Linked DNA regions of Homo sapiens. The protein of the gene in region 4 interacts with the protein of the main gene of each other region in a pairwise test. Each region holds a gene or a part of one and is shown on either strand. Other genes may lie near its edges.

Region 1 (7,034 bases), on a different chromosome or scaffold from region 4:
GGGAGGTCAAGACTGCAGTGAGCCATGATCACACCACTGCACTTTAGGCTAAGCAACAGAACAAGACTCTGTCTCAGAAGTAGGGGCTGAGAAATAACCACTATTTGGATTTAGAAATTGAGTTCTTTGGGCCATGCGCGGTGGCTCACACCTGTAATCTCTTTGGGAGACTGAGGCGGGTGGATCACGAGGTCAGGAGATTGAGACCATCCTGGCTAACACGGTGAAACCCCGTCTCTACTAAAAATACAAAAAATTAGCTGGGCGTGGTGGCACGCACCTGTAGTTGCAGCTACTTGGGAGGCTGATGCAGGAGAATTGCTTGAACCCGGGAGGCAGAGGTTGCAGTGAGCCGAGATCGCGCCACTGCACTCCAGCCTGGGTGACAGAGAGGGACTCCATCTCAAAAAAAAAAAAAAAAAAAAAAAAGAGGTTGAGTTCTTTATAGTAAAATACTATACGTGGAAATCAGATTTTAGTGAGTTGAAGGACTGTGGCTGAGAAAATGGAGACACTTATAGGTTGACTGCTTAAGGAGGAAGAGGCACTGCCATTTATTGAATGTCTACTGGCTTTCAGGTACTCTACTCAGGGTATTTTTTTTTTTTTTTTTTTTTTTTTTTTTTTTGAGACGGAGTCTCGCTGTGTCTCCCAGGTTGGAGTGCAGTGGCGCGATCTCGGCTCACTGCAAGCTCCGCCTCCCAGGTTCATGCCATTCTCCTGCCTCAGCCTCCCAAGTAGCTGGGACTACAGGCGCCCGCCAACACGCCCGGCTAATTTTTTGTATTTTTAGTAGAAACGGGGTTTCACCGTGTTAGCCAAGATGGTCTCGATCTCCTGACCTCGTGATCCGCCCGTCTCGGCCTCCCAAAGTGCTAGGATTACAGGCGTGAGCCACCGCGCCCAGCCTCAGGGTATGTTATATCAGACACGTAGAATGGATTTGATTGCTCTGTCGAACATTTATTTTAGCTAAGAAATTTATGTCTTTCACCCATAGTCATTTTCACTTTGATGTATGTTTAAAGTGCGAATATCTTAATAAGGAAAGGGAACCTCTTTCACTCCTTGAGGCAAAATTCTTGTTCTTCATCTCATATGAGGGGAAAGTTGGTACTGGATTTTGTCTACATTATATCCTCCATCCTCTTCTAAGCCCAAACAGATTTGGGCCGTTATCCCACCTTCCTTCACTCCAGGCCCGGTATGAAAGCCAGCGGATCCAGCTGGAGTCGGAGCTGGCTGTGCAGCTGGAGCAGCGGGTGACAGAGCGGCTGGCGCAGGCTCAGGAGAGCAGCCTACGGCAAGCAGCCTCCCTCAGGGAACATCACAGGTACGTGGGACTCACTGGGTGTCACTTCTCTCAGCCACAGCACGTATCGTTAGTGCCAGGCCTGTGTTCCCTTCAATCCCTTTGCCATGGTCCAGCACTGTGACTCCCAGGGTGCGCTAACTCCCATCAGCTGGGACCTGAGTCTCTCTCGGGAGGGCTGCCTTCACGCGTTCATGGAGAGCCAGAAGTGCCTGGGAATTTTCATCCCATAGGGAGTAGCCCTTAACCAAGAACTGATGGGTGCAGAATGATAGATGGTCCAGCTCCCTCACTGGGACAGTGCTGAGGTATGACCTGTGCTGTCTCCAGAGCTGCTCTGTCGGACTGAGCCTCCTCGCAGCCTGGCCTCACTTCTCCTCACACCCATTCTGCTGCCGAGATTTTCTGGAACTGCTTCCGAAATAAATTTATTTAAGTCTCTGCTTCTGAGGAACCCATCCTAAGACCCCAGCTTTGTCCTTGCCGCTTCCTGTGCCATGGCCAGGCTAGCTGACTGGCTATCTGGGTCACTGTCATGTGCACACATGATGTCTTTTTCTCAGTTGGTCACTTCTTCTGTCTCCAGTCTCAGGCCTCTTCTCCTACCTGTGCCCTGTAGGAAGCAGCTGCAGGACCTGAGTGGACAGCACCAGCAGGAGCTGGCCAGTCAGCTAGCTCAGTTCAAGGTGGAAATGGCAGAACGAGAGGAACGGCAACAGCAGGTGGCTGAGGACTACGAGCTCAGGTCCTGGTCCCCAGAGTGCCCCTTTCAGGCCCCAGCCCCTTTCCCATGGGTAGAGCCCAAACTGGGAACGGTGAAGAGCTGCTCCCTTGATTGATCTGTCCTCCTCTACATGGGCCCCAGCTCCTTTCAGAATATCAGATGTCCAACATTTCCCTTCTGGCTCTTTTTAGCTCCCAAGTATCTGCTTCCTTAAAGGCCCTGAGTCACTTCTTCTCTCTTTGCTTCAGACTGGCCCGGGAGCAAGCGCGAGTGTGCGAACTGCAGAGTGGGAACCAGCAGCTGGAGGAGCAGCGGGTGGAGCTGGTGGAAAGACTGCAGGCCATGCTGCAGGCCCACTGGGATGAGGCCAACCAGCTGCTCAGCACCACTCTCCCGCCGCCCAACCCTCCAGTACGCCTTACCCCTTGAGCTAAGCTTCTCCGTTATGTTCTATTTTTATTTTTATTTTTGAGACAGGGTCTCACTCTTGCCCAGGCTGGAGTGTACTGGTGAGATCATAGCTCATTGCAGCCTCGAACTCCTGGGCTCAAGTGATCCTCCCACCTCTAACTCCCAAAGTGCTGGGATTCCAGGCATAAGCTACCATGCCCAGCAAGAACTGTGTTCTAGATTCCTTCTTTGGAAATCTAGCTCCCTCCCAAGGGAAGTACTAAGTTCAGCTCCTAAGGCCTACATCAGGGGAGAAAAATCGGTGGACTTTACAAATAATAACTGCCTCAGCAAAATAAATCCTTTTTTCCATGGCCATAGCTCACTCAGACTGGCCCCATTCCATTGGGCATAACTCTAGTCTCCCAGTCCCAAGAGGGGACAAATGATACGTGGTACTAGTTTTGTGGAGGGACAGCTGAATTAATTATGAGGGAAAGGGCCAAAAATTGTTGCCAAGTCCTGCCCCAGAGTAGAGTAGGGAGTCTCACTTCCTAGCCCTTCATACGTTGATACTTCCCACTTCCTTCTTTTAATTATGAAATTCTAGCAGGTGTGGTGGTGCGCCTGTAATCTCAGCTATATGGGAGGCTAAAGCAGAAGGATCACTTGAGCTCAGGAGTTCAAGACTAGCCTAGGCAACATAGTGAGACCTCATCTCAAAAAAAGAAAAAGAAGAAAAAATTAGGATATTTTAATTTTAATTTTATTTATTTATATACTTATCATTTATTTATTTGAGACAAGGTCTCACTCTGTTGCCCAGAGCGCTCAAGCAATCTTCCTTCCTCAGCTTCCTGAGTAGCTGGGACTACACACACGTGCCATTGCCCCCAGCTAATTTTTAAATTTTTTGTAGAGATGGCATCTCTCTATGTTGCCAAGCCTGGTTCAAACTGCCAGCCTCAAACGGTCCTCCCAAAGTGTTGGGATTACAGGTGTGAGCCACTGCATCCGGAAATTTATAATCTTATTAAAGTGTTTGTACCATGTCTTATCTCTTTAAACCTACTGTGCTTTGACCCTTCTTTCTGCCTCTCTCCTGGTCAGGCTCCTCCTGCTGGACCCTCCAGCCCCGGGCCTCAGGAGCCCGAGAAGGAGGAGAGGAGGGTCTGGACTATGCCTCCCATGGCCGTGGCCCTGAAGCCTGTATTGCAGCAGAGCCGGGAAGCAAGGGACGAGCTACCTGGAGCGCCTCCTGTTCTTTGCAGTTCCTCCTCAGATCTTAGCCTCCTGTTGGGCCCCTCTTTTCAGAGCCAGCATTCTTTCCAGCCCCTGGAGCCCAAACCAGACCTCACTTCATCCACAGGTAACTGGGGGCAGAAGTCACTGGGGTTCCCCTTCTGTGCATGAATTGGCTCCCTCTTTCGTACCCTGCTTTCTGTCTGATACTTGAGCATTTAGTTTCCCAGATGCCTTTAGTGATCGCAAGTTGCAAGGAGCAGAAATCTGCTCACATTGGTCCAAATAAAGGGATTGAGATCTCATGGAAATATGACATCGCTGGACTTAATGAGAACTGGAGTTGGGAACGGGGTACTATCAGGAACTGAGGCAGCTAGCTGGCCCTTTTCTGTGGGCCTGCATAGCCTCCTGGGTCCACCTCTCCTGCACATCTGCTCTTTTTTCTTGCTAGACCAGCATTCAAGGTTCTCACCCTTCATAACTTCAGTTTACACATGGGTTTGACCAGCTGTGATACTGACTCTAGCTGAGCCTCTAGACATTTATAGAGACATCGGTGTCTCAGTTTTTTTAGGTCCAGTTTAAAGAGGCCATCTGATTGGATTGGCTGACCTTGGGTGTGGTGTCCACCCCTAGTTTAATGTCACCTGTGATTTGAGTGGATGGGGGCATTCTGTGTGGTACAAACATGACAACCTAGGTCGAATTAAAAATGAGGGATGGGGCCGGGTGCAGTGGCTCACGCCTGTAATGCTAGCGCGTTGGGAGGCTGAGGTGGGAGGATGGCTTGGTGCCAGGAGTTCCAGACCAGTCTGACCCATATAGTGAGACCTCATCTCTACACAAAATAAAAAGTTAGCAGGATGTGGTGGCACACACCCAAATTTCCAGCTACCCAGGGAGGCTGAGACAGAAGGATTGCTTGAGCCAAGGAGTTTGGGGCTACAGTGAGCTAAGAAGTTGCCATTGTACTCTAGCCTGGGCAACACAGCAAGACTCTGTCTCTTAAAAAAAAAAAAAAGAGATTACAGCTCACGCCTGTAATCCCAGTACTTTGGGAGGCCGAGGCGGGCAGATCACAAGGTCAGGATATCGAGACCATCCTGGCTAACACAGTGAAACCCCGTCTCTACTAAAAATACAAAAAAGTTAGCCGGGCGTGGTGGCAGGCATCTGTAGTCCCAGCTACTCGGGAGGCTGAGGCAGGAGAATGGTGTGAACCCGGGAGGCGGAGCTTGCAGTGAGCCGAGATCGCGCCGCTGCACTTCAGCCTGGGCGACAGAGCGAGACTCCATCTCAAAAAAAAAAAAAAAAAGAGAGATTAGTTGTAGCACAATTAAAAATTTTTTAATTATGTGAGAATAATAAAAGAATGAGGCATATTCGGGGGAAGAGGTCAGAACATGTGTGTTACTCATTTCCATTCTTCAGGGAGTTTGTGAGGGTATTTATTTGTTTAGAGTTTGAGTACCACAGCTTTCTTCTGTCTATATTTCTGTCTTAGAATTCAGCTGTGCCATCTCTCAGTCACCTCCAACCCTTCCCTCTCCAGCTACTTTAAACCTCCATCTTCATCTTCTCTTAGCTGTGATGTTCCTCTTCCATTTAATAGGCCCCTTTCTTCTGAGTATTAGGTGAGTTGATTTGTGGAGAAGCCCCTTCCCCCCTGAACACACTTGCACCCACCCATACCTGTTTCACTTTATAGCTGGGGCCTTCTCTGCACTTGGGGCCTTCCATCCCGATCATAGGGCAGAAAGGCCATTCCCTGAGGAAGATCCTGGACCTGACGGGGAGGGCCTCCTAAAGCAAGGGCTGCCGCCTGCTCAGCTGGAGGGCCTCAAGAATTTTTTGCACCAGGTAAGAGAGATTCCACCCAGACTAGCTCACTTTCTTCTTCCCTTTCTCCTTTCCTCTTTCTGCTCTGGGAATCCAGGACTCTGGCCTCATTCCCTGTTTATGACTAACTCTTTGTCCCAGCTTCTTCTCTCAGATCCCTGGGCGTTTTTCTCTATCAGTCCCTAGGGAACTTGACAATCTTATTCACCCACAGTTGCTGGAGACAGTGCCCCAGAACAATGAGAACCCTTCTGTCGACCTGTTGCCCCCTAAGTCTGGTGAGTTCCAACTCTGAAGAAGGTTGGGGCTGGGGCCTAGGAAAGATCGGAGTTGGTTATCTAGGATGAATTTTTAGGAGCTGGCAAAAGTAATAAAGCCTTATAAATGCTGGGTGGTGGGACTTCCTTGGTTCTATGCCCCATTTCCTGATTCTTGGCATTCTTTCCTTTTGCTAGGTCCTCTGACTGTCCCATCTTGGGAGGAAGCCCCTCAAGTGCCACGTATTCCACCGCCTGTCCACAAAACCAAAGTTCCCTTAGCCATGGCATCCAGTCTTTTCCGGGTCCCTGAGCCTCCCTCCTCCCATTCACAAGGCAGTGGTCCCAGCAGTGGTTCCCCAGAGAGAGGTGAGCATGTTCTGGTTTATTAGGGAAAAAAGGAGGGACAGTCCTGAGTGTGGATCCAGTACAGGCACTTACAGTCCTTCTGAATTCCTGGGGAAATGGGCTGAGGGCTGGGGAGACAGGCCCTAGGATGACGCCTGTGATTATTGCGATGTCTGTCAGGTGGAGATGGGCTTACATTCCCAAGGCAGCTGATGGAGGTGTCTCAACTGTTGCGACTCTACCAGGCTCGGGGCTGGGGGGCTCTGCCTGCTGAGGATCTCCTGCTCTACCTGAAGAGGCTGGAACACAGCGGGTACAAGCCTGGGAGGAAGGAGGAAGGATTCTCCGGGTGGAAGCTGGATTATGGGGAGTGGAGTGGGTGTGTTTTACACTGAATTGAATCGTTGTCCTTTTCTGGGGAGGAAAGTGAAGGATGAGAGGTGGATCCACAGATCTTCTCTAACTGCCCCACACTTTTCTTTTATCTCCTCCTTTCTATTGCTTTTTTCTTCTAAACAAAAAAATCTTTTCCCCGGGTCTCTCTACCTTCGTTTTTTTCCTCTTTACCCCTCAGCTCAAAACTCAGAATCCTAGACTTTTGACTAGCTAGTGTAACTCGTTATTTACTTCCACTAATGTCTCCTCCCAGTTGATGCCCAGGTCTATCGAGTTTGATCTTATTCTTAAGAGATAGAATTGGGGAGTAGTTCTTCCATCCAGTATTGGGTAACCGGGGGGACGGAGATCCCCATCCTCATACCTTTGATTTGTGTAGCAGGACTGATGGCCGAGGGGATAATGTCCCCAGAAGGAACACAGACTCCCGCTTGGGTGAGATCCCCCGGAAAGAGGTGAGGGAAAGTCAGGCAGGGACCAGGGGAGAAAAGGGCTCTCACTGACCAGCTCCTTCACCTCTGCA
Region 2 (4,267 bases), on a different chromosome or scaffold from region 4:
GCCACCACATCCAGCCACATTTAGGAACTTTAGCAATTAAGAGAACTGGACTGCCCTCTCAGACCTCCAAGTGGAAAGACTTCATTGAAGTCAGCAGGGTTTCCATTAAGTGAGAAGACACACTGTTAGGAAAGTGTGGTCCTAGTAACTGCATCTTATTTCCAAGAAGCCCGCAGGCTTTCCTGGCACCTGGTCTAAGGGATCCTCTGGTAGAGGACAGGCATTCTGTCATGGTGAATAATGAATGAGAGTGAAAGGAAGTAACTTGGGTTATTGAGTTCTATGAGTATAACTCTACTGGACAATGAATAAAACATTGTGAGGGAAATTGCTCTTAGATTCTGCTTGATGCCTCCTGCAAGAAGCAGAAAGGTGTGTATCCCAGCAAGTGATTTGATCTTCTTCAACAAATTCCTTAGTATAGCAAGTATAATTTCCTCACAACCTTGTTGGGAATACAAATGTTAGGCTTGAGGACTGAGCTCATTAAACAAAAACAACTGTCTTGATGAGAAGCTAAGTTTTATTATTATAATTACAAATTAATTACAGAGAAACTGAAGCCATTCTTCATACATGACAAACATACATTTCCTCTGTGTGTACAGCACACAAGTAATATACACAAATATATTCCATGTCTGAACAAATCCTTTTTAAAACTTTAAAAGCTGGCTGGGCACAGTGGCTCACGCCTGTAATCCCGGCACTTTGGGAGGCCAAGGCGGGTGGATCACAAGGTGAGAAGATCGAGACCATCCTGGCTAACACGGTGAAACCCCGTCTCTACTAAAAATACAAAAAATTAGCCATGCATGGTGGCACATGCCTGTAGTCCCAGCTACTGGGGAGGCTGAGGAAGGAGAATCACTTGAACCTGGGAGGCAGAGGTTGCAGTGAGCCAAGATTGCACCACCACACTCCAGCCTGGGTGACAGAGCGAGATTCTGTCTTAAAAAATAAAACAAAAACAAAAAAAAAAACAACTTTAAAAGCCAAGATAGTAGCTTATTAAAATTTGAATACAGTACATGTTTCTAGTCATGAACTCTGTGGTTTCTTCTCATGACCAAGATATTCAGTTCCATGACACCATTTTCCTTGTCTACAGTAGTGATACAGAGTTTGTCAGACTTTTTTTTTTTTTTTGAGACGGAGTCTCGCTCTGTCGCCCAGGCTTGAGTGCAGTGGTGTGATCTCGACTCACTGCAAGCTCCGCCTCCCGGGTTCACGCCATTCTCCTGCCTCAGCCTCCCGAGTAGCTGGAACTACAGACGCCTGCCACCACGCCCGGCTAATTTTTTGTACTTTTAGTAGAGACGGGGTTTCACCGTGTTAGCCAGGATGGTCTCGATCTCCTGACCTCATGATCTGCCCGCCTAGGCCTCCCAAAGTGCTGGGATTACAGGCATGAGCCACCACACCCAGCCCAGACTTACTTTTTTTAAAATAAGACTACCAGAGGCCGGGTGCAGTGGCTCAGTTTGGGAGGCCAAGGTGGGAGGATTGCTTGAGTCCAAGAGTTTAAGACCAGTCTGAGCAACATAGTGAGACCCCATTTCATTAAAAAAAAAAAAAGATAAAATAAGACTATCATATAGAGCTGTGTAATGTAGTGAGCCTACATTACAAAAATATATACAACCACACAGAGAATATGTAATTACACCTTGCCTATATCCATAAATGATTTGAAGCAGGTAACACATTTGCTTTTAAATGCCATTTACAACATAGACTCTTGAATGACATGAATTTGAAAATGAAGTATTTTTTCAGACTTAAAACGTTGATGTGCTAATGTAGCTTACTTTAAAAAATGATTTCCAAGTGGGGAACCAACTACATTGGGAAAAGACAGTCAGATTCAAGGACAGTGTCATAAAATTGCTGGTTTTCCTTAGTCACCCTGACTTTATTTTTTTGAGACAGAGTCTCGCTCTGTCACTCAGGTTGGAATGCAGTGGCGCGATCTCGGCTCACCGCAATCTCTGCCTCCCGGGTTCAAGCGATTCTCCTGCCTCAGCCTCCCAAGTAGCTGGGACTACAGGCACATGCCACAGTTCCCAGCTAATTTTTGTAATTTTAGTAGAGACAGGGTTTCACCATATTGGTCAGGCTGGTCTGGAACTCCTGACCTCAGGTGATCCACCTGCCTCGGCCTCTCAAAGTGCTGGGATTACAGGCATGAGCCATCGTGCCCAGCCACTCTCACTTTAATACTATGAAAAATGCTACTTAGATTTTTTTCTATACTGCCTACATTCCAAGTTATTAAAGTTTAAAACCGTATGAAAGCATTTATGAAGATTCTGAATTGTATTTCTCATTAAAAGAAAAGAAATGTGAGTCATGTCCCGAGGCTTATGTAGAGGAGAAAGCAGAAGGCCATTGTCAGTCATTTTGAAAGTTAAAACTCAGCACTTAATGTGAATTTAGATCCATTTAAGAGAGGATTCCTCAGTTTTATGGGTTTGTGCTCCTCTGAGCATCCTCAGGGAAGTGAGAACACAAGACTTCTGTTCTTCTAAGCAAAAATCATTATCAAATGAATTTATTAAAGAGCTATCCCGAGCAAATTGCAATTGTATGTATGTAGCTACATAGGCTTCCATGGGAATTGTAAATGGCTAGCTGAGGGCACTTTCAATTGATTCAGAGTAAAACAATCTGAGGCTTGTAACAAATGTACAAAAAACTAAAATCAATGAGTAACTCTAATAGGAAGAAACTGTTTGCATTCCTTATGTTACAGTTTGCTTGTAAACTGTATGTACTTTGTTTCTTTTCTCAACACTGTTTTAAAACTCCAGCATTTTCACCTAAAAGAAAACACAGGCTCTTCATAAATACCTGTGAACAAATAAATGAAATGGTGACTGAAGGCGATTTCTGCAGTAGCTTTCTCTCAGAGATAATTATTTTTTTTTTTGAGACAGAGTCTCGCTCTGTCGCCCAGGCTGGAGTGCAGTGGCGCGATCTCGGCTCACTGCAAGCTCCACCTCCTGGGTTCACGCCACTCTCCTGCCTCAGCCTCCAGAGTAGCTGGGACTACAGGCGCCCGCCACCATGCCCGGCTAATTTTTTGTATTTTAGTAGAGACGGGCTTTCACTGTGTTAGCCAGGATGGTCTCGATCTCCTGACCTCATGATCTGCCCGCCTCAGCCTCCCAAAGTGCTGGGATTACAGGCTTGAGCCACTGCGCCCAGCTCAAAGATAATATTTTATCTTGAAGCTAGTGCATCGATTTGTAAAGCTCATTTAATTTTCTACATACTCAGGATTTGCATATTGACTTAAAATCTGACTTTATCATCCATGCCGTTATCAACTAGACAAAAAAATGTATCAAGCACCCACAGGATGCACAGATCTATCTCTGAACTGGTGTAGTGGTATTAATCTGTTCTAAGACTAGAATTACATTTTTTTTTTTAAGAAGCTACAGTCCACTGAAAAGGAAGTATTATGGTTTTTCTGAGAAGAAAAGTTGCTAAATACTGCAGCAAACTCAGGCTTTTCCTGAGAAAAGCCACAAACAAAATCATCTCTGAAATTTTTTAAGCAACAACTTCCTGAAGCGTGGAATTTATGGGGCCAGTGAGACACTAAAATTTCACAACTCTCACATACATTATCTATCTAGGACTCAGTGAAGATGTTCTTCAGATTTTTATTTAAGTTAAATTGGTAAAATACAAAAAGAAAATCTGGATTGAGTTTCAAATCATCTTAAATAGCAATCCTATGAACAATTATAACTGCAATTTCAAACACTAAGACTTAAATATACAACTTGATCATACAATTATCTCAAAACATATGATCAAAAACTTTGGTCAAGAGCTTCTTTCATGAATTCTTCAAGGACAGCTATCACATTTTTGGCTTCAGGCATTTCTTCATGTTCCACTTTAACAATCTTCAAAAGTATATCTCCACTACCACAGTTCTTTAGGAACATGTAACATTTAAACAAAGCATAATGATTCATTTCTGCCTGTCGGATAAATCTCTTCAAATTGTTTGTGTCTTGTATGGCCTAGAAAATGATTACCCAGTTAAAAATGTGTTAAGTGAAATAATAATGAAGCTCAAAAAATAACTCCTATCCAGCTGAGAACTCAACATATCTTCCTGAATTGTTTGCTTTTCATATTAAATATTTCCAAAATTTAAATTGCAGTATGCTTTGCCCTTGGTAGAAGAAGAAAATCTCCTTTTTTTTCTTGTTTCGCTCTTGTTGCCCAGGCTGAAGCGCAATGG
Region 3 (7,034 bases), on a different chromosome or scaffold from region 4:
CCTACCACATTGGGCTGAGGGCCAAAGTCCATCCCCAGTAGGGGTCTGCTTACCAAACTTGACAAACAAGACTCCAGTGGAAGAAACCACCTCCTTGCCGTTTGTTGCCACGCACTGGAAGTAGCCTGTGTCTGTGGTGTCGAGGTTTCTAATCCGCAGCCGAGAGCCATAGATGGTGGACCGAAAGGAGAGCCTCCGGGGCTCCTGGACCACAGGAGCATCATTTTTGAACCAGCGGATGGTGGGAGGTGGATTCCCAGAGACTTTGCAGTGCAGTTCTGCTGTCTGGCCCAGAGACGTGGTGATGTTATTCATTGGTTCATCGAGGGTCAGGTAAGAATCTGTGAGCACAGAGAGGAGGCAGGTGAGAGGGGCAGACAGCTTGAGAGGGCTTCCAAGCAGCCAAATCCCCTCCAGTGTACCCTTGGGATCACAGAGAGGCTGAGCAGGAGAGGCAGGTGAGACAGACAAGGAAAGAAACAATCACATTGATTAAGACCAGAGGACTGCTAAATAACCACCCATAGAGCCTGCTGCTTGGAAGAAAATTTGTCACTAATCAGAGTATAGAACCCAAAGTCTCCAAAAGACTACATGGATAAGCTTTTGTGCTTCAGATCAAAAAATCATATACACTCCTTGTTCCAAATTCCAGCATAGCAAAAGAGAGAAAATAAAGTTCACCTCAAATCTCCCCACCCAAAAATAACACCATTTTTAACATCCTGGCAAACATCCTTCCAGTTTGCTCACTTTTGATAAGAAAGAAAGCATCAAAAATTGGAAAAGTAGGAGCAACACATTCATATCCACATGGCACAAGATCAGAAAGGATGCCTGAAACTTTCATGTTACTGACAATATAAGGTTATGAAGGCCAGGTCAGAGGCAGACAGAGTAATAAAGCAATGGACATTTCCATAATATTACTGATATCAACCATAACATGTTACAATATGTAATTATTTTGATCACATATATATAGATTAATTCATATACAATACTGTGCAATATACAGATCTTAGTTATACAGTTCTATGAGTACAGGCAAATGCATATACTCATGTAACAAATGTCCCTATCTTGATAGAACATCAACAACCCAGAAAGTACCCCCACAATCTTTTGTAGTTGGTCCCTGCTCCCAACCACTCCCTCCCACCCCACCTTGAAGCAACTAAGGTTCTAATTTCTATTACCATAGGTTAATTTTGCCTGTTTCAGAACTTCATATAAATGGAATCATGCTGCATGTATATTTTGCTTTGGCTCCTCTTAAGATTTATTGCACTATGAATTTTAATAACAAAATAAGTTTTATTTAAGCTTATTCTTCAATCAAGTATTTAAACATCAATATTAATATTAGTTGTAGAATCCAATTGCAGATAAAATTATTTATTTATTTTTAATTAAGTTTGATTTCTTTTAAAAACGTGCTCTGTTATTCATGGGTAGGGAGCTTTCTTTGGTTTCATTTTTCCTAAGCACCCCTTCTTGGATAGATCCCCTGCCATACTTTCTCATTGTCCTATGTCCTTCCGTAGGTCCAAGTCTGGGGTAACTTGTTCAGCAGAGCTATCAGCCCCATAAGGGCAGGGATGGGAATGTTCTGGTCATCACTGCATCCTCAGTGTATACTACTGTCTAGCAGTGTTATCCACCAGAACTTTCTGCAATGATGGAAATGTTCTATAATCTGCACTGTCTGATTGATAGCCACTAGTCACACAGGGCTTACTGAATGCATGAAACATGGCTGGAGCAACTGAAAACTGAATTTTTAAATTTAAATAGCCACATGTGGCTAGTGGCTACTGTACTGGACAGCACAGGTAGAACGCCACAAATTTGTTGAATTTAATGGAAGTTTATTGAAAAGTAACATTTTTCTGAGCTATTTAACCGGGTAATTTAATTGCCCAAATGTCTGTAAAATGAGTTCATAAATGCTAAAAATAATTGATTCATTATTTGCTTTAATTTCCGTCCCCCCAAATTCAGAAGGAACATTGTTAATGTCTGGGCAGCCTCACAGGAGTGTGTCTCACATATGAATGGCATTTATCACATGTGCAGTAGGAAACAGATTAAGCATGACTACTGCATTACCATAATGACACTTTCCATCTCACTTAAGCCAATGAATAATTATCCTTCACAACAGATTCATGAGCCCATAAATGATCTTGCTAATGCTTTGCTTCCTAACATTTATATTTTGATCTCTATCTTTGGGCATGTTTCTCCAATCTATATACATCTATACTCAATCCACGAATGTGTTTGCTCATGGATATAAGCACATATGTTCCTAAGATGTTTGAGGTATGCCCAGAAAGGAGGGAGACTAATTAGCAGATGGCTCTATGGAGCCATTATCATGCCTTTATAGCCCCATATCATTCATTGAGAATAGATAACTATGTACCCTTTGTGGAGAGAAACTTAGAGATAGCAATCACATAACAATGCCACTATAAGCATAGTGATTAATACTGCATTGGACAGGTTCTGGAATTTGATTGGCTGGGTTTGAATTCAGGTCAGCCCCTTGCCTATCTGTGTGACTTTGGGCAAGTTACTTAACCTCTTTGTACCTCAGTTTAACCAACGGAAAAACCAAAATAATAAACAGGGCTCCATCTGAGGGAACTGTTAGAAGAGGATTAAAATGAAAGTGAGTGACATCTGGGAAGCACTTCAACCAGTGTTTGGCAAAAAGTAAGCACTCAAAAATGTTAATTAATGTTGTTACTATTGTTTTTATAACAATAACTTCTGTATACCACTTTTCACATGACAAAATGTTTTCACAGCCTCTGTCTCCTGTTATCCTCTAACAATCTAGAGAAGTAAGAAAGGCACATTAATTACTATGATTTCCAGTGCAGATGAGGAAGTCATGTCTCAGAGATTAGCAGACTTGCCCCATGGTTACTCAGGAAACTGCCCAAAGCTTCCATCACTAATGGCCTTTAATCCTCAGGCTCAGCCAAGCACCTAAAGAAAGTCCATTTGAGGCAGCTGGCCAGTTCTGGACCAATAATGGACTATTTTGAAATCCTACTATATGCTAGGGCTTTACTTTAGTATTCACCTGTATGCTAACTTTGCAAGGGAGAAGTCATTATCACTGTTTTACAATGAGGAAACCTAGGATCAGAGTGGTTTAGTGACTTGCCGGAGGCCTTGTGGCAGAACTGAGGTCCAATTTACATCTCTCTGGCTGCCAAGCCCAAATCTTTTCACTCCACCAGTCTGCTTTGGTACCATGAGACCCATTGAGGGCTGAGATTTGGTACCATGAGACCCATGGAGAGTTGGAATATCTCCCTAAACCAAGGTGGGCCGTGGACACACATATACCCACAGGGTTGTGCTCTTCCCCTAACTTCAGCCAAGACTGTCTGGTTAATGGGCCTAAGCTTTAGCCATGGGTGCTGGCTGATGTTCTTTCTGGTTTCCCTCCAGAGGCCAGGCACCTCACCTGATCTGCTCTATAAAATATCTATCTAAAAACAACATGAGGGTTGCAGGGCACCTTGAAATCAGTGTAGTAGATGACCCAAGCAGTGTGTTTCCAGAGAGAACAAAAGAAATGTAAATAGATCTTTGTGTTTACTGAACAAAGGAGCCTTGCCACAAACAGGGAATTTGGTTTTAACTTTTCACTGACGAAGAAGAAGTTTCAAATTTGTTGGCCATCTGTAGCTGCTTACTTAGTAAGCAGAACGAGAACACCTGGGCATCCCAGCAAAGGTGTCCAGTCCAGAGGGAATTCACACTAGACTCAAGTAGCAGTTCTGCCACTCTCTAGCGATGTGTGTCAGACCATCACTTCACCTCCCTGGGCTTTGGATTCATAATCTGGGCCTTTGGGGTTGGGTCTGCTTCTTCTGAGACAGTTTGTGTTTCTATATGGGCAGCTGCAGAACAACTGGATGACAGGCAGCAGGTGTCCAGTGAGCTTGAATGCCAGACAAAGCAATCTGGCTTTTATGTGTAAACCTGGCTGTTTGTACCTTTTTCAATGGTTTGATTCAGTAGCTCTGATGATATGTGCTTGAGCTATGGAAGATTTCTCATCTTTTTTTCCCTTCTTCCCTAGACTGCAAATGTCAAGATGGCAGATGGTAAGTGGGAGGTAGGGTATAGTCTGGCTTAAGGGAAAAGTTCCAGTCCCACTGAATCCACCTCTAGCTCTGTGTCCCTGAACAAATGATGCCTTCCAGTGCTAATACTAGTAATAATGATGATGATGACACTGACAACAATAATGATTTCATAATGATGGTGGTAATACCTAACACCTAAATGGTATTTATCATCATGACAGTTATTGTTATGAACATTTTACACATGGAAAACAGAGAGGGTAAGGCACAGAGAGGGTAAGAAAGTTGTCCAAGATCACACAGACAGTAAGTAGAAGTGAGATTTTAAACAAATTATTTTGGCTCCAGAGTCCATGCTGTAGGATAGAAGTTCTCAAATTCTTTGGTCTCAGGACTCCTAGATAATCCTTAAAATATTGATGCCACTGAGGGGAGAAAGTTTTAAAATATTTGTTTATTAACCTATTTAAAAATAAAAACAATCCCATTGCTTAACATAAATATTTTAATAAAATATTTAGTAAAATAATATTTTCCACACGCGTATACCAAAAATAGTGAGAAAAGTGGCATTTTTTTTTTATTATTGAATATCTATTATTGTCTTAAAACCAGACAGCTGAAGCCTCCTGTTTCAGCATTCAATCTGTTGAGGTATGTTGTTTTAGTTGAAGAAAATCTGGCTTCGCACAGTTGGAAAAGGGAAGGGTTTTTAATAGTCTTTCAGATAATTTAGGATATTCTTCTTTGATACTACACCAAAATTCGATAGGTGGTAGTTTCTTAAACGTTGGTTGCAATGTGAAATCTGAAATCATATCAATAAACTTTTCATAATCTATTAAATTATAATGGATTGATTTATCTTGTACTTTGAATGGTTATTCTACCTACATACGATTTTGTAACATCATGCATTGCCTGTTTAGAGAACACTGGTTTACTGAGTTACGTTCGTTTTCAAAATGTGGACACCCTTACTTATCTAATATAGAAAATTCAAATGCATTAATATCACCACCAGTGCCATCAGTTATGATTGGGAAGAAGTTGTCAAGCTCGTGATGGTGGCTAAAAGTTTCGCAAAATTCTAACTTTTTCTGGAAAGTTCAAATTTTATTATTGGCAATTAATACTACTGTTTCCTTCAAGCGGCAGGTTCATTTTCCTCATTTTAAAGAATATTCAAGAATAACTAACCATAATTTTTCTGTCGGTCATTCTTTAAAGTAAAAGTGGCTAGTTCAGCTCAGAACTCAAATGCTTTTCTTTGAGACAGTCATAGTACTTGGCAGGAGTACTTTACGTATACTGCCCATCTGCCATATGAAATATTAAAAATCTATGTATTCAAGGGTCAAGATTTAATACAATTAATAATTTTTACTGCTCCATGGAAGATATTCTTAAGTGCAATTGGCTTTTTTTTTCTTTTCAACTACAAGTATATGGCAGTGGAATGTACAGTGACCACTAGTTTGGTACCGTTGGTGCCATTGTCTGAATTTGTTTGAGCAGTTTCACCCACCATTGCTTTTGCACAATTAGGATGGGTAAACCGCAGTTCAGAGGACTTAACAGCCTATCCCAGAGTTCACAGCTAATAAAAGGCAAAGCCAGGATTTGGACACCAAGCCCAGCGCTGTTTCCATCACACTCCATAGCTGCCCTTTCCCAGCCCTCAGGGTCCTAGACTGGTGTAAGGCTTTCAGAACAAAATGGGTTAGCTCAGGCCCTGAACGGTATGAGTCAGAGAGCAGAGTGGCTTGGATGGCATGTTTTCTATTTCCGAACAAGCAGTTTGGGGCTTTGGGGCAATCCCAAGCGATTGTGTCAGATCTGGGCAAAAGTTTAGGACTCTGAATTAAAAAGGATTTGTTACCTTTACAATGTAGGAAAATGAAATGCCAGTATCCTTTTAGTGCCACCATCTTCTCCCATTAACAATGGAAAGTGATGATCATAGCTAACATTTTTCTGAGCATTTACAAAATGCCAGGCACTATTCTGAGCATCTTACACACTTTAATTTAAACTTGACAACAATCCTATGAGGTAGACTCTAAAACTGACCACATTTTAGAGATAAGGAAACTGAGACACAGAGAAGTTAAGGAATTTCCCAAAGTCACACAGCCAGAAAGCGGCAGAGCCAGGACCCAAACCCACGCCTTTGAACAGCAGAGACCATATTATGTTCTGATGCAATCAGATTCCCAATCAATCCAACCTGTAGTCTTTCATTGTCCTTTGCACCACTCATAACCTGAACTAAAAAATATTCTTGCCTTTTTATGAGTCCATCAAGCATGTGACAATACCCACTGGTACTGAAAACAACTAAATCACCACTAGTTGCTTATGACGTAACTGGAAGTCATCATTGAGAATGAGCTTTTTAAATACAGTGCAGGCATGGTCTGTACTGAGGCTTAATGAACCAGAAAAAGCAAACTGCAAGAAAAAAGTTATTTTATGACCTCTCTGGGAATTGAGACTCTATTTCCTCCTTTTTACATTTTTTGTATTCCCCTCAGCACTTCATGTGTTATTGTGAACTTCATAGGCATTTAATAAACGCTGGTTGATGAAGTAAATGGAAGGCTCAAGTGAATTTTAGGCAAATTAGCTTTGGAGACACCCCATTTATTATTTACCCACTTGACAAGATGTCACATCCACAAATCCACAAATCCTTCCCAACATTTATTACTTAATTTTCAAAGTGCCCCCATCTCTCCTCAGGGAGGAAGGTGGGGCCAAGTGTTATATTCCCATTTTGACAGGTGAGAGAAACTGAGATATAAAGAGTTGAGCAGTCCATTGCCATGGCAACCCAGCCAGTCAGCCGAGGAGCCAGTCACAATTAGGTTTAGGGCCTGGGTCTTGGTATCAAAAGAGGCACATGCCAAAATC
Region 4 (7,034 bases):
AAGATGGTGCCACTGCACTCCAGCCTGGGTGACAGAGGGAGACTCCATCTCAAAAAAAAAAAAAAGTAAACCCTTTATATGTGTGTATATGTTTCCTTATGTTGGCAATAGCCCACACAAGGTAGTAGAAGTATGCAAGTAAATTTAACACTGGTTAGTCAGGGGTAGAATTAAGAGGAGACAAAGGGAGATTATGCAGTTTGTCTTTATAACCCTCTACCTCATTTAACCTAGTATAATTAAGCATGTCATATTTGTAACTTTTTCAATTTAAAAAAAGAAAGACGAAAGGCAAGGGATGCTTACCCTGGATCTTCCTATGGCTAGACGATTATCTCCAGGTATTAAGCAGCAAGATATGTATTAAAATCACATATAGGCCGGGCACGGTGGCTCACACCTTTAATCCCGGCACTTTGGGAGGCTGATGTGGGCAGATCAACTGAGGTCAGGAGTTGGAGACCAGCCTGGCCAACATGGTGAAACCCTGTTTCTACTAAAAATAAAAAATTAGCCAGGTGTGGAGGCAGGTGCCTGTAATCCCAGCTACTTGGGAAGCTGAGACAGAGGATTGCTTGAACCCAGGAGGCAGAGGTTGCAGTGAGCCGAGGTCACACCACTCCAACCTGCACTTCAACGTGGGTGACAGGGTGAGACTGTCTCGAAAAAAAAAGAAAAAGAAAAAAAATAAATACAATAATATATGGAGGGGTCCTACAGCATCTGCATCTGCTCCTTGGTGAGATGGAACATGGCTGGAGTCCGGGAGAGTGGAGGGAGGAGCAGTTAAGAACAAGCCTCTGGGTTGGGCAGAGCTGCATTTTAATCCCAGCTCTCTGCCACTGACTGAGCTGTGGGACTTGGGCCAGTTATTTAACTGCTCTGTGCCTCAGTTTCCCTATCTTTATAATGGGAGTAATTAGCCTCTATCACTGGGTTATCAGGAGAGTAAAATGAGATCATGCATGCAGGATGCTTAGCACAATGCCTGGCATACAGTGTTCAAGAAAGGATAGTCGTTATCATTATTAATATTATTTACAGTAGGTGCATCTCAGTTGTGTAGGGAGTGGGGAATGGTGGTTATAAAAATCTAAAGGAGGTGACAGTGACCTAAATTTAGGCTCCCATACTTCCAGGCATATATTGATGTGTTCCTGCACCATCCACCTAAGAACTGATTTTATTCTTGAGGGTATTATAGCTAGCTAAAATAAAAGACTACATTTCCCAGGCTCCCTTGCAGCTAGGGGCAGGGGAAGTCTGGGATGGGACTTTGCTTTCGGAAGATGCCCTTCTGCTCTTTCTTTCCCTCCACCCTCCTGCTGTCTGGGTCCTAGAGTTGATGGCTGGGGTCCTGGCGGCAATCTGGGACCCTGCAGCACCTGGAGGGAAGAAGCCACGTCCCCAGGACAGTGGCGCAGAAACACAGGAGTCTGAGTCCCTGATGACCCTGCAGTGGCCGTGCCAGCCCCAGCCCACCTCCCTCTGCACTTATATGTGAGAGAGAAATAAACCTCTATCTTGCCTAAGACTTTGTTTAGGTTTTCTGTAATGTGAAGGCAAGCCCAGCCCTAACTAATTGAGTTCTCACAGAACGACTACAAATTCCAAAGCCCATGGCTAGGAGGTGGCGCAGGGCGTGGCCTGGGGAGGGGCTGCTGCCTGCTCCCAAGCGAGCCTGGGCCTGGGCACTTACTCATCGCCAATGTAGAGCTTGGGCCAGACCTCGTTGACGTGGGTGTACTGGGGACTGCCCTTCCAGAAGAGCCGCTCCAGCTCAAAGGCTCCAGGGGTGCAGTAGTCCTCCTCCTCCCCTTCCTCCTCCATCTTCGGCGACAGCCTCTTGGCAGATGAGTAGGCATTCTTGAGGCTTGTCTTCACTTCTCCAGATGTCATTTTAGAGCCAAGGGATTTTCTCTCCTTTCTGCAGCTGGTTATGAGAGAGAAGCAGGATGGGGGTTAGCAGGGGACACTGAGGCAGGGAATAGGCTTTACAAAAAGAGGTGGGAATAAGCTTATCTTAAAATTTGGAAAGAGTTTCCCCAACCTGCTATGCCCCGGCTTCCTCTTCCCAGGCCACACAGGTAAACAAGGAAGGCCATGATGGCAGTTAAATGACACTTCCCCAATGTTCCAATCTTTCTAGAGAAGGAGAGCTGGGGTCCTTGGACGTGGGCCAAGGCGGGCTCTGGAGCTAAGAAATCCTGCAAGCAGCCAGTTCCTTCCCACCTTTCTTTAGACTTTACTCCTTTGGTTCCTACTTTTTCCTTTATCTGACTGAAACCTACTGGTTTGGGCCATTTGGGACCCAAAATAGGAAGGCCCAGAAGATTCCTGACATTCCAGGCCTGTGGCCCTCTCAGTGTCTGCAGGGAGCCGTCAGCCAGTGGAAAGAGTACATCGCCAAGGCCATACCTGCCCGGGCCTGGGTCTGGGCCACACGCACATCAGCAGGACTTCAGAAGCCTTGAGAGGGGAGGAAACCTGGCTGCATGAGGGTTAACCTGTCAGAAGAGCTGAAGGCAATGCTCACACTCTCACACTGGGAGCCTGGCCATCACTGTGTTAACTTACCAAGGGGATTGGAAGAGATGCCCCAAGATAGAAAGCTGTGCCTCGAGACTGAAATGTGCATTTGGAGAGCTTGTTAGGCTCTGCCAGTGGAATGTGGGAGAGGACTTTCCATTGTCCCCAAGGAGAGGAATTTGCAGTGGAATTGGACATTGATTGTTTCCTGAGCTGAGTAAATGATGCACCTATGGTCAGCCTGGGAAAGGAGACTGGAGAGAAGGAGGAAAAGGTGGGAAGACTGAGAACCATGGAGGTGAATGCTATTTGTTTATTTATTTGACAAATACTTATATAACACCTATTGTGTGCCAGACACTATTCCAAGTGCTTGATGATTGTAAGCCCATTTAATCTTAACAACACTGAGATAGGGTTATCCTAATACCCTATCATTAGCCCCATTTTACAGATAAGGAGGATCATGAATTGAGGCTGTCTGTAGCACAGGGTCTTAGTGTCAGGGGGAGGGAGATGGGAGGTGCAGTGTGAGGAGGGGCAGGCCGGGGATGCAGAGAATGTAGGAAAGGGTTCATGGCTTCAAAGACCATTAGGAACATGTCAAAGGGACTCAGAATACAACTTGAAGAAGCTTCCACTTATCAAAACTGGAACAATTTGAACATGAAAAATAAAAATAATTCCAGTGGATCAAAACACATCAAACACTTAGGTCATAATAATACTGAAGGCCAGGCGCGGTGGCTCATGCCTGTAATCCCAGCACTTTGGGAGGCCGAGGCGGGCAGATCACCTGAGGTCAGGAGTTCAAGACCAGACTGCCTAACATGGCGAAACCCCATCTCTACTAAAAATACAAAAAATTAGCCGGGTGTAGTGGCGGGTGCCTGTAATCCCAGCTACTTGGGAGGCTGAGGCAGGAGAATCGCTTGAACCTAGGAGGCAGAGGTTGCAGTGAGCTGAGATCGCACCACTGCACTCCAGCCTGGGCAACAAGAGTGAAACTCCATCTCAAAATAATAATAATAATACTGAAAACAGTCCGGGAGCAGTGGCTTATGCCTGTAATCCCAGCACTCTGGGAGGCTGAGGTGGGCAGATTGCATGAGCCCAGGAGTTCAAGACCAGCCTGAGCAACATGACAAAACCCATCTCTACAAAAAAATGCAAAAATTAGCTGGGTGTGGTGGTGCATGCCTGTAGTCCCAGCTACTCAGGAGGCTGAGGCTGAGGTGGGAGGACCACTGGAGCCCAGGAGGCTGAGGCTATAGTGAGCCAAGATCATATCACTGCTCTCCTGGGCAACACAGTGAGACCTTATAAAAAAAAAAAAAAAAACCCAAAACTTATTATGCACGGTTGGAAGATGTTTGGGAACCAGCTCCTTATTTTGAAGATGGATAGATAAAGGAGAAGAATCTGCATGTATTGCTTCTCTCTTTTACAAACTATATACTACTGGGTTGATACGGGAAATGTTCTTTTATAGAAGTATTCCAGATAATGAATAAAGAAGGAAGCACCATTTTACACCACCTGATGAGTTGCTGCATCCAGAGACTGAGCATAAACTGCCAGCCACGTATGAATAAGAAGAGATGGTCAGACATCATATGCCTTCGAATAGAAGAGCACACCACCATGGCGGGAATCATCTCACCAAAGAGGTCTATATCTATCAGCCGACTTGCTGGAGATTCCGAGGACAGTTACGTTATACCACAGGGCCTTATCTTTTAGAAAAACATACTGAAATATTTGCTTCAAAAATAATATAGTTGGAAAATATAAATAATATAATGTTGGGGCAAGGTATTGATGTAGGTGTGAATGAGATGGGCTGGCTATGAGTGATGGTGATTGGGGCTGGATGATGGTTATAAGGTAGTTGTTGTTTCTCTTTTTTCCTTTTTTAAAATAGAGATGAGGTCTCGCTATGTTGGCCAAGCTGGTCTCGAACTCCTGAGCTCAAGTGATCCTCCCACCTCAGCTTCCCAAAGTGTTGGGATTACAGGTGTGAGCCATCACACCTGGCCAGTTGCTGTTTCTCTTCAGGTGTGTTTGAAATTCTCCATGATAGAAATTTAAAAGGAAAGGGTTGAGACCACTGCTTTGGGGAATTGGATTCTCCCAAGTCCATAGCAGATGACTTAAAGGATCACTAGCTAGCCATGAGTGTCTGTAGGGATTGTGGGAAGCCAGGGTTTGTGACTTCCTCCAACAACTTCCTGCTTCCTGGTGAAGTGTGGAGAGGGCAATAGGCAGCAAAGGGGACCCTCCTGTGAAGTCTCTCAAAGTGTGGTCTGAAGACCACGTCTGTCAGAGTCACCTGGCACTAACCAAAAATACAGATATCCGGGCTGCACCCTCGTAGGGGCGCAGGCATCTGTATCTCAATGAGCTCCGAAGTGAGTCTGACGCTTAGTAAAGTTTGATAATAATTGTCTGAGATGTGGCTAGAGAGCCAGGGTGCTGCGGAGTCAAGGGAAAGGTAGTGAGGGTGCTCATTCAAAATGCCTCCCGCTGTCCCAGTGGGGTGGGAGGCCCGGTCTTTGGCCCAGAATGCAGCTGCAGGCTGGGAGGAGAGAGGACCTTGCTTCGGGGCTCCTGAGTGTGGCTTCTCTCTGTAGCCTTGGTGTCTGGCACGTAAGAGGTGCTCAGGAGATATGGGTTGGATGAGGAAGTGGCTTAGTGAATGAATGGAATGAGTGAATGAGTGACTGAGGGGTGAAGGAATGATTAAGGGCTGTGAGGCCTGTGCAAGGGGCTCAGCAAGAGCTGCTAAGGCAGGACTGAGCCTCCAGGCTGATTTGGAGGAGGGAGAAGGTGAGGGGACTGCAGGCGCAGGGTGGGCTGCCCTCCCCCACGGGTGGTCATTCAGGCCCAAACTCTATTCTGGGGCCTGCCTGCTGTGTTTCCAGTCAGGAAGGAAGAAATTATTTTAAGGAGTGGCCAGAAATCTTTCTCACAGAAACGAGCCCAGACCTTTCAGTCCCCTAAGAGCATACGTAGTTATAGCCCTCCTTGCTTCAGGCCCACAGTGTCTAAAGGTGTGAAGCTCAGCTCGTCCATGGCACCCACTCTTCTTGTTCGAAGTGAGTAGAAGCTGGGCACCATACACCTAAAGGTGGTTTAGGCCATCTTGAACCCTGCCTGCGGTTAATGGAAGCTTCAGAAGAGGTGATTTTCGGGAGACGCTAGAGTCAATTCCGTTCTGAAACCTCCGTCTGCCTCCTTTGATCACTGAAGCTGACCTCACCCTTGGTGAGGCCATTCTTCCTTCATTACACTGTGGAGGGAACCATCCCCGTCTCCATCTCTGTGCTGAAAGCCTCGGCTGGATTTCCAGACAAAGGAGGAAGTGGTGCGGTCTACCCCGAGGAGCTTGGCACGCAGAGTGAGCCCTGGGATCTATTATCCTCCAGCACGCAGATTTGATGGGGAAAGAGAACAAAGTGTGGAACCGTCCAGAAACCACAGACCTGTAATCTTTCCAAATCCTGAAGGCGGCCTGTGTGCACCCTCTCTGCATGGCTCCCAACTCTCTAATTCTCAGAGAGGCCAGGAGCATCTGTTTCCCAGATCACAGCCAACATGGAAGGGAAGACAAATCTGTTCTGTTTGGTTTCCATAGATTCGACCCAGAGATTAACTGCCAAGGTCTCAATGACACACACAATATCAATCACAGGCTAAATGTCATAATGAGAGCTGGGCAGGCTGTCAAGAGAGGCCCCCAGGTTCCTGTTACAGCTTCATATTTAAAGATTTGGTCCCAGGAAATCAAATGCTGTCTCCGAGACGACTTGGCCTACATGCAATGGCAGCCTGTCTCCTCCTTAAAAGGTGACAAACTCAGGCTCCTTCAGGGAGGGGCCAGGCAGATAACATAGAGGAAGGAAGTAGGTTGGGTGTTAAAAAGTAAACAAACAAAAACCTGGCTGTTGGCCTCAGGCAAGAGACATTAGGGAGTGGTGGGGAGTGTGGCACATCAGGGAGCATATGCCTCCATTAAGGGGGCAGCAGCTTGCTGTCCCATGTGGGAATGCAAGCCCAGATTTTCTGGTATTTTTATGATCCTCATAGATTGTTGTGAGAAATCTATTGATTTTTAAATGTAAGCCCCTGTAATCGATGCTATTCTTGCCCTGTTACAAGGATAGCATCTACTACAGGTGCCTACAGGTGCCTCCTCAGCTCAAGTCACTGCAGCAGAAGTGGACAGTTCTTTATATACATAAAAGCCTTCCTACCTCAGATGCCTGTTTTCCTGCTTGAGGGCATTTTCTAGTCCTTGTGCTGGTCAGGCCTGCAGTATGTGGAGTTAACATCCCCCAGAAGTTGTCACCAATTAGAGGCAGGAGTTGGTGGATAAACATCCCCACTTCCTCAACCCTGAGTGGACCACTTTTGAAATATGTCCTGCACAGTCTCCTGGAGGCTGGCCCGTGTGTTGGAGCTCCAGTTGCCCAGAGTGGGACTCTGCTCGCTTACACATCCTT

Evidence for each region.
Region 1: the proteins of DUSP29 (region 4) and CNTROB interact in binary tests that used the Homo sapiens proteins (3 or more experiments, as listed by UniProt).
Region 2: the proteins of DUSP29 (region 4) and C17orf75 interact in binary tests that used the Homo sapiens proteins (3 or more experiments, as listed by UniProt).
Region 3: the proteins of DUSP29 (region 4) and ROR1 interact in a two-hybrid assay, tested with the Homo sapiens proteins (one study listed by BioGRID and IntAct).

Annotation. Positions count from the first base shown.
Region 1 is NC_000017.11:7,942,192-7,949,225, forward strand, and holds part of CNTROB (centrobin), read left to right. Parts: intron 1-1,199; coding exon 1,200-1,333; intron 1,334-1,931; coding exon 1,932-2,057; intron 2,058-2,284; coding exon 2,285-2,447; intron 2,448-3,536; coding exon 3,537-3,795; intron 3,796-5,175; coding exon of another isoform or gene 5,176-5,309; exon of another isoform or gene 5,310-5,369; intron 5,370-5,379; coding exon 5,380-5,531; intron 5,532-5,724; coding exon 5,725-5,788; intron 5,789-5,965; coding exon 5,966-6,136; intron 6,137-6,295; coding exon 6,296-6,428; coding exon of another isoform or gene 6,429-6,494; intron 6,495-6,890; coding exon of another isoform or gene 6,891-6,893; coding exon 6,894-6,966; intron 6,967-7,034. UniProt on the Homo sapiens protein: Required for centriole duplication. Inhibition of centriole duplication leading to defects in cytokinesis.
Region 2 is NC_000017.11:32,327,936-32,332,202, forward strand, and holds the end of C17orf75 (protein Njmu-R1), read right to left. Parts: intron 4,044-4,267; coding exon 3,828-4,043; 3' UTR 506-3,827; downstream 1-505. UniProt on the Homo sapiens protein: As component of the WDR11 complex acts together with TBC1D23 to facilitate the golgin-mediated capture of vesicles generated using AP-1. May have a role in spermatogenesis.
Region 3 is NC_000001.11:64,042,998-64,050,031, reverse strand, and holds part of ROR1 (inactive tyrosine-protein kinase transmembrane receptor ROR1 isoform 1 precursor), read right to left. Parts: intron 342-7,034; coding exon 54-341; intron 1-53. UniProt on the Homo sapiens protein: Has very low kinase activity in vitro and is unlikely to function as a tyrosine kinase in vivo. Receptor for ligand WNT5A which activate downstream NFkB signaling pathway and may result in the inhibition of WNT3A-mediated signaling.
Region 4 is NC_000010.11:75,056,616-75,063,649, forward strand, and holds part of DUSP29 (dual specificity phosphatase 29), read right to left. Parts: intron 1,934-7,034; 5' UTR 1,900-1,933; coding exon 1,700-1,899; intron 1-1,699. UniProt on the Homo sapiens protein: Dual specificity phosphatase able to dephosphorylate phosphotyrosine, phosphoserine and phosphothreonine residues within the same substrate, with a preference for phosphotyrosine as a substrate. Involved in the modulation of intracellular signaling cascades.